2 linked regions of the Homo sapiens genome follow. The protein of the gene in region 2 interacts with the protein of the main gene of each other region in a pairwise test. Each region holds a gene or a part of one and is shown on either strand. Other genes may lie near its edges.

Region 1 (3,649 bases), on a different chromosome or scaffold from region 2:
ACTAGGATTACAGACGTGAGCCATCACGCCCAGCCTTTTAATTTTTATAATTATTTTTTCAGACAAGGCCTTGCTTTGTCACCCGGACGGGAGTGCAGTGGCACGAACATGACTCACTGCAGCCTCGACCTCCCCAGTTCAGGTGATCCTCCCACCTCAGCCTGGCAAGTAGCTGGGACTACAATCCTGTGCCACCACATTTGGCAAATCTTCTGTATTTGTTGTAGAGTCAAAGTTTCACTATGTTGGCAGGCTGGTCTCAAACTCTTGGGCTCAAGTGATCCTCCAGCCTTGGCCTCCCAAAGTGCTGGTATTACAAGGCATGAGCCACCATGCCTAGACTGTGTTTTATTTTTTATTTATTTATTTATTTATTTATTTATTTATTTATTTATTTTGAGACAGAGTTGCCCAGGCTGGAGTGCAATGGCATGATCTCGGCTCACAGCAACCTCCACCTCCCGGGTTCAAGGGATTCTCCTGCGTCAGCCTCCTGAGTAGCTGGGATTACAAGCATGCACCACCATGCCCGGCTAATTTTTTGTATTTTTAGTAGAGACGGGGTTTCGCCATGTTGGCCAGGCTGGTCTCAAACGCCCGACCTCAGGTGATCCGCCCGCCTCAGCCTCCCAAAGTGCTGGGATTACAGGCGTGAGCCACCGCGCCCGGCCTTTAATTTTTTATCTTTTGTTTTTGTTTGTTTGTTTGTTTTTGTTTTTTTGAGACAGAGTCTCGCTCTGTCACCCAGGTTGGAGTGCAGTGGCACCAGTCTCAGCTCACTGCAAGCTCCGCCTCCCGGGTTCAAACTGTTCTCCTGCCTCAGACTCCTGAGTAGCTGGGACTACAGGCGCCCACCACCATGCCTGGCTAATTTTTTGTATTTTTATTTTTATTTTATTTTTTATTTATGTATTTATTTTTGAGACAGAGTCTCACTCTGTCGCCCAGACTGGAGTGCAGTGGTGCGATCTCAGCTCACTGCAACTTCTGCCTCTTGGGTTCAAGCAATTCTGTGCCTCAGCCTCCTGAGTAGCTGGGATTACAGGTGCCTGCCACCACACCTGGCTAATTTTTGTATTTTTAGTAAAAACAGGGTTTCACCATCTTGGCCAGGCTGGTCTAGAACTCCTGACCTTGTGATCCACCCACCTCGGCCTCCCAAAGTGCTGGGATTACAGGCATGAGCCACCGCGCCCGGCCTTTTGTATTTTTAGTAGAGACGGGGTTTCACCGTGTTAGCCAGGATGGGCTCGATCTCCTGACCTCGTGATCCACCCGCCTCGGTTTCCCAAAGTGCTGGGATTACGGGCGTGAGCCACCGCGCCCAGCCTTTTTTTTTTTTTTTTTTAAAGAAACAGGTTGTACTGTCACTCAGGCTGGAGTGCAGTGGTGCAATTGTGGCTCATTATAGTCTCAAACTTCTAGGCTCATGCAATCCTCCAGCCTCAGCCTCCTGAATAGCTGGGATTACAGGCATGTGCCACTGGTCATTGTTTTCGTTTGTTTGTTTTGAGACTGAGTCTCACTCTGTCTCCCAGGCTGGAGCACAGTGGCACAACCTCAGCTTACTACAACCTCTGCCTCTTGGGTTCAATGACTTTTAAAATGTTTTATTTTTTTTAATTATTTTTATTTTATTTATTTTTTGAGACGGAGTTTCGCTCTTGTTGCCCAGGCTGGAGTGTAATGGCACAATCTCGGCTCACTGCAACCTCTGCCTCCCGGGTTCAAGCGATTCTCCTGCCTCAGCCTCCCGAGTAGCTGGGATTACAGGCACGTGCCATCATGCCCAGCTAAGTTTTGTATTTTTAGTAGAGACAGGGTTTCTCCATGTTGGTCAGGTTGGTCTTGAACTCCCGACTTCAGGTCATCTGCCCGCCTTGGCCTCCCAAAGTGCTGTGATTACAGACGTGGGCCACCGCGCCTGGCTGTGATGTTTTTTTTTTTAACTTGTTTTCCCTATTAGGATATGAGCTGTTTTTAGAAGTGGAGACTTGGTCTGCTTTTTCACTGCATTTACTACCATGCCAGGATGCCAGATACAAGGAAAGTGAGTAATAAAGATTTAATTGAATGAGCACATGAATGGCAGCTAGTGTGCAGGAAGGATTGGAGAGGGTGAGCCTGGAGTCCAGTGGTGAGGGGACCCAGGCTGGAAATGAAGGAGGAGGTGGGGCGAGGGTGGGCAAACCTGTCCTGTCCTGTTCTTCAGGTATGGCTTCTCCCACTTCCATTCGCGAATCACTGCCTGGACCACTTTCTCATCTCCCTGCAAGGAGGGAAGTCCAGTCACCTTTCAGCATGCCACCTCCAGCTAAGGCCAGGTGCTACCTACTTGTCCCCCACCATCCACCGCCACGGGAACCCTACACCCACCCCTTTGCCCCTTACCTTGAGCAGGTCCAGCAGCTTTAGTTCCAGTGCCTTAGTCTCCTTGCGGAGCTGACTGATGGTCTCCTGGTTCTTCTTGATGTTCCACTGAGAGCTCTCAAAAAAAGCCTTCCGGTCACCCTCTGGCAGGCAGGTGAGGTGGACAGACACACAGTTACTGGGTGGGTGCATGGGTGCAACATCCCAGAGGAAAGACCTTTTTTGCAATCATCAACTTTTTTTTTTTTTTTGAGATGGAGTTTCACTCTTGTTGCCCAGGCTGCAGTGCAATGGTGCAATCTCGGCTCACCACAGCCTCCGCCTCCCGGGTTCAAGAGATTCTCCTGCTTCAGCCTCCCAAGTAGCTGGGATTACAGGCATGTACCACCACACCTGGCTAATTTTGTATTTTTAGTAGACATGGGGTTTCTCCATGTTGGTCAGGCTGGTCTCGAACTCCTGACCTCAGGTGTTCCCAAAGTTCTAGGCCCCCTAAAGTCCTAGGATTATAGGTGTGAGCCACTGTGCCAGGCTCATCAACTTAATATTATAAGAATGCAGTCGTTGACCAGCCTGGCCAACATGGTAAAACCGCATCTCTACTAAAAATACAAAAATTAGCCAGGTGTGAGGCTGAGCATGATGGCTCGTTCCTGTAATCCTTGCACTTTGGGAGGTAGAGGCGGGCGGATCACCTGAGGTCAAGAGTTCAAGATCAGCCTGGCCAACATGGTGAAACCCCATCTCTACAAAAATACAAAAATTAGCTGGGCATGGCCGGGCACGGTGGCTCACGTCCATAATCCCAGCACTTTGGGAGGCCAAAGTGAGCGGATCACGAGGTCAGGAGATCGAGACCATCCTGGCTAACATAGTGAAATCCCGCCTCTACTAAAAATACAAAAAAAAAAAAAAATTAGCCGTGCATGGTGGCAGGCACCTGTAGTCCCAGCTACTCAGGGGACTGAGGCAGGAGAATGGTGTGAACCTGGGAGGCAGAGCTTGCAGTGAGCCGAGATCGCACCACTGCACTCCAGCCTGGGTGACAGAGCGAGACTCTGCCTCAAAAAAAAAAAAAAAAAAAAATTAGCCGGGCATGATGGTGGGTGCCTGTAATCCCAGCTACAGGAGGCTGAGGCACAATAATTACTTGACCTCTGGAGGTGGAGGTTGCATTGAGCTGAGATCCTGCCACTGCACTCCAGCCTGGGCAACAGAGCAAGACTCTGTCTCAAAAAACAAAACAAAACAAAACAAAAAACCCCAAAATCCTTCCATA
Region 2 (3,649 bases):
TACAAAAAATTAGCCAGGTGTGGTGGCAGGTGCCTTAATCACAGCTACTCGGGAGGCAGAGGCAGAAGAATCGCTTGAACCCGAGAGGCGGAGATTGCCTGAGATCGTGCTATTGCTTTCTAGCCTGGGCGACAAGATGGAAATTCCATCTCAAAAAAAAAAATTAGCCGGCTATGGTGGCATGTGCCTGTGGTCCTAGCTACTCAGGAGGCTGAGGCGGGAGGATCACTTGAACCTGGGTGGTGAAGTTTGCAGTGAGCCTTGATCATACCACTGTACTCCAGCCTGGGTGACAGAGACTCTGTTTCCCAAAAAAAAGCAATTTATCTCTAATTTGTCACCCTTATTTTGGCCTTGTCCCAGTGAATTTTTTCTTATTTCTTTTTTTTGAGACACAGTCTTACTGTTACCCAGGCTGGAGTGCAGTGATGCAATCTTGACTCACTGCAACCTCCACCTCCCAGGTTCAAGCAATTCTCATGCCTCAGCCTCCCAATTAGCTGGGACAAACAGGCATGCACCACCATACCCAGTTAATTTTTGTATTTTTAGTAGAGATGGGGTTTCACCACATTGGCCAGGCTAGTCTTGAACTCCTGGCCTCAAGTGATCTGCCCACCTTGGCCTCCCAAAGTGCTGGGATTACAAGCGTGAGCCACCACACCCGGCCAAATTTTTTCTTCCCGTATAGGATGCTTGGTTACCAAGTAAAGGATTCCAAAGTGGAGCAGCAAGACAACTTTCTAAAACGCATGTCAGGGATGATCCGTCTCTACGCTGCTATCATCCAGCTCCGGTGGCCATATGGAAACCGACAGGAGGTAGGTAAAAGAGGCTTACTGTCAATAATGAGAGGTTAGACCACAGTCCATGTGTATTCCTCCCACAGGAAATGTTGGCCTTCTTTCAGAGAGCCAGTCTAGTTAAAGGATAAACTATATGGCAGTTTCATGGGTATTATGTAGAGGACTGAATGTTGATTATTAGGGAACTTTCTTGGATCACCTGGTACTTTAAAGAGCTGGTTTTGTAACAGAGTCTACCAGAGGAGAGTCTGTTATAAATCAGTCATTAAGGTTAGAAGATTTTCTTACAAGAGGAATGAGCAAGAAATTGTCATCTTAGAACTAGTTGAGACCTTAGAAGCCATCTAGATCACATACCTTACTTCACAGATGGACAGAACAAGCTCAGAAAGCTGCAGCTGGGGTTCAGGGCTTTGACTTGCCAGCCCAATTAATTTCTCAGGGAATACAGATTAGAAGGACAGAGAAATTAATAGTTACGGAGACCTAAAGAGAAAAAATAGAAGTTGATTAAATCCAAGTTTTTATTGTATGCCTGCTGTGTCCCAGGTTCTGTGCTAAAGGTACCAAGAATAATAAATAAAATGTCAATAAGGCTAATTGTTACCCTATGGAATGCCTGAAACTGAAGCTGACACATGCATATTGAAGGGAGCCTATAAAGAATGTGTGGGAACCAATGTATTGAAACATTAAAAAATAGAAGGCGAGGTAGCTTCAGGCCTGATATCCCAGCACTTTGGGAGGCTGAGGTGGGTGGATCACCTAAGGTCAGGAGTTCAAGACCAGCCTGGCCAACATGGTGAAACCCCGTCTCTACTAAAAATACAAAAATTAGCTGGGCATGGTGGTGGGCACCTGTAATTCCAGCTACTTGGGAGGCTGAGGCACGAGAATCGCTTTAACCCAGGAGGCAGAGGTGGCAATGAGCCGAGATCACGCCATTGCACTCCAGCCTGGGCAACAAGAGCAAAACTCTCCCTCAAAAAAAAAAAAAAAAAAAAAAAAAGAATGTGTGGGAACCAATGTACTGAAACATTTAAATACAGAAGGCTGGGCGAGGTAGATTCATGCCTGTAATCCCAGCCCTTTAGGAAGCCGAGACAGGTGGGTCATTTGACTCCAGGAGTTTGAGACCAGCCTGGGCAACAAGGTGAAACCATGTCTCTAAATAAAATACAAAAAAATTAGCTGAGCACGGTGGCATGTGCATGCCTGTAGTCCCAGCTACTTGGGAGACTGAAGTGGAAGAATCACTTGAGCCCAGGAGGTGAAGGCTGCAGTGATCCATGATCGCACTATAGCACTCCAACCTGGACAACAAAGTGAGACCCTGTCTCAAAAAAATAAAAGAAAAACAGAATTTGTTTAGTTTGTGTTATTTCTGCCCTGTGGCAGGTGCTAGGGCTGGATGATCTGGGGTTCATTTCCACTTGGTAATGGCTGGATGATACACTGGGAGTTTAGATTTCTAAACAAAATGAGATCAATGATAACCAAGCTTCTCTACTCCCAGATTCACCCTCATGGCTTAAATCATGGATGGCGCTGGTTGGCACAGATCTTAAACATGGAGCCCTTGTCAGATGTGACAGCCACCCTCCTCTTTGACTTCCTGGAGGTACGTAACTCAGTTATCACACAAGAGAAGGCCAGTGGTTGAGGTAGCCTTGATCCACTGGGTGACATGAATGGGGAAACAGCATAGCATTTGGGCCTGATAGTAAAACAGCATGAGGTTCCAGTGTCATACATTTTTCCCAAGCTGTAGACCAACCTTGCTTTCACTTTTACTCCATACTATATTTACTTGGCTTCTCTGGATTTTTTTCATTATAAAGAACAGAAAATTGTACATTCTAGCAAAAGTGAAAAGAGGAATTTGTTTTAGGGATATAGAAGGGACTCCCAGGCCGGGTGCGGTGGATCACACCTGTAATCCCAGCACTTTGGGAGGCCAAGGTGGGCGGATGACATGGGGTCAGGAGTTCGAGCCCAGCTGGTCAGTATATTGAAACCCTGTCTGTACTAAAAATACAAATAAAGGCCGGGCACGGTGGCTCACGCCTGTAATCCCAGCACTTTGGGAGGCCGAGGTGGTTGGATTACCTGAAGTCATGAGTTCAAGACGAGCCTGTCCAACATGGTGAAACCCCGTCTCTACTAAAAATAAAAAATCAGCCGGGTGTGATGGTGCACACCTGTCATCCCAGCTACCGAGGAGGCTGAGGCAGGAGAATCGCTTGAACAGGATCTCACTCTGTCAGCCAGGCTGGAGTGCATTAGTGTGATCATAGCTCACTGTAGCCTCAAACTCTTGGGCTCAAGCGATCCTCCCACCTAACCCTGCCAAAGTGTTGAGATTACAGGAGTGAGCCATTGCACTCAGCCAAGAAGACACTTCTTATAGAAGAAAGCCTTGGGGTACATGCCATAACAAATCTGGAACCATTTGATCTATAGTGCCAATAGTTCCTAGTTACCTTAATAGCTCCTGACGTCAGCCAGGTGCAGTGGCTGACAGCCTTTGGGAGGCCAAGGCAGGCGGATCACTTGAGCTCTGGAGTTCAAGACCAGCCAGGGCAATATGGTGAAACCCTATATCTACCAAAAAAATACAAAAATTAGTGGTGTGTGCCTGTGGTCCCAGTTACTGAGGAGGCTGAGGTTGGAGGATCACCTGAGCCCAGGGAGGTTGAGGCTACAGTGAGCTGTGATCATGCCAGTGTCCTCTAGCCTGGGCGACAGAGTGAGACCCTATTTCAAAAAAAAATAAAAAGCTCCTGAAGTCACCATACATGAACAATGATCCTGTATCATTTGAGAACACAAGTGGTATTCTG

Evidence for each region. The genes of interacting proteins can lie anywhere in the genome.
Region 1: the proteins of GLE1 (region 2) and ODAD3 interact in binary tests that used the Homo sapiens proteins (3 or more experiments, as listed by UniProt).

What each region holds. Positions count from the first base shown.
Region 1 is NC_000019.10:11,428,508-11,432,156, forward strand, and holds part of ODAD3 (outer dynein arm-docking complex subunit 3), read right to left. Parts: intron 2,514-3,649; coding exon 2,392-2,513; intron 2,270-2,391; coding exon 2,192-2,269; intron 1-2,191. UniProt on the Homo sapiens protein: Component of the outer dynein arm-docking complex (ODA-DC) that mediates outer dynein arms (ODA) binding onto the doublet microtubule. Involved in mediating assembly of both ODAs and their axonemal docking complex onto ciliary microtubules.
Region 2 is NC_000009.12:128,535,664-128,539,312, forward strand, and holds part of GLE1 (mRNA export factor GLE1), read left to right. Parts: intron 1-691; coding exon 692-821; intron 822-1,163; exon of another isoform or gene 1,164-1,292; intron 1,293-2,322; coding exon 2,323-2,427; intron 2,428-3,649. UniProt on the Homo sapiens protein: Required for the export of mRNAs containing poly(A) tails from the nucleus into the cytoplasm. May be involved in the terminal step of the mRNA transport through the nuclear pore complex (NPC).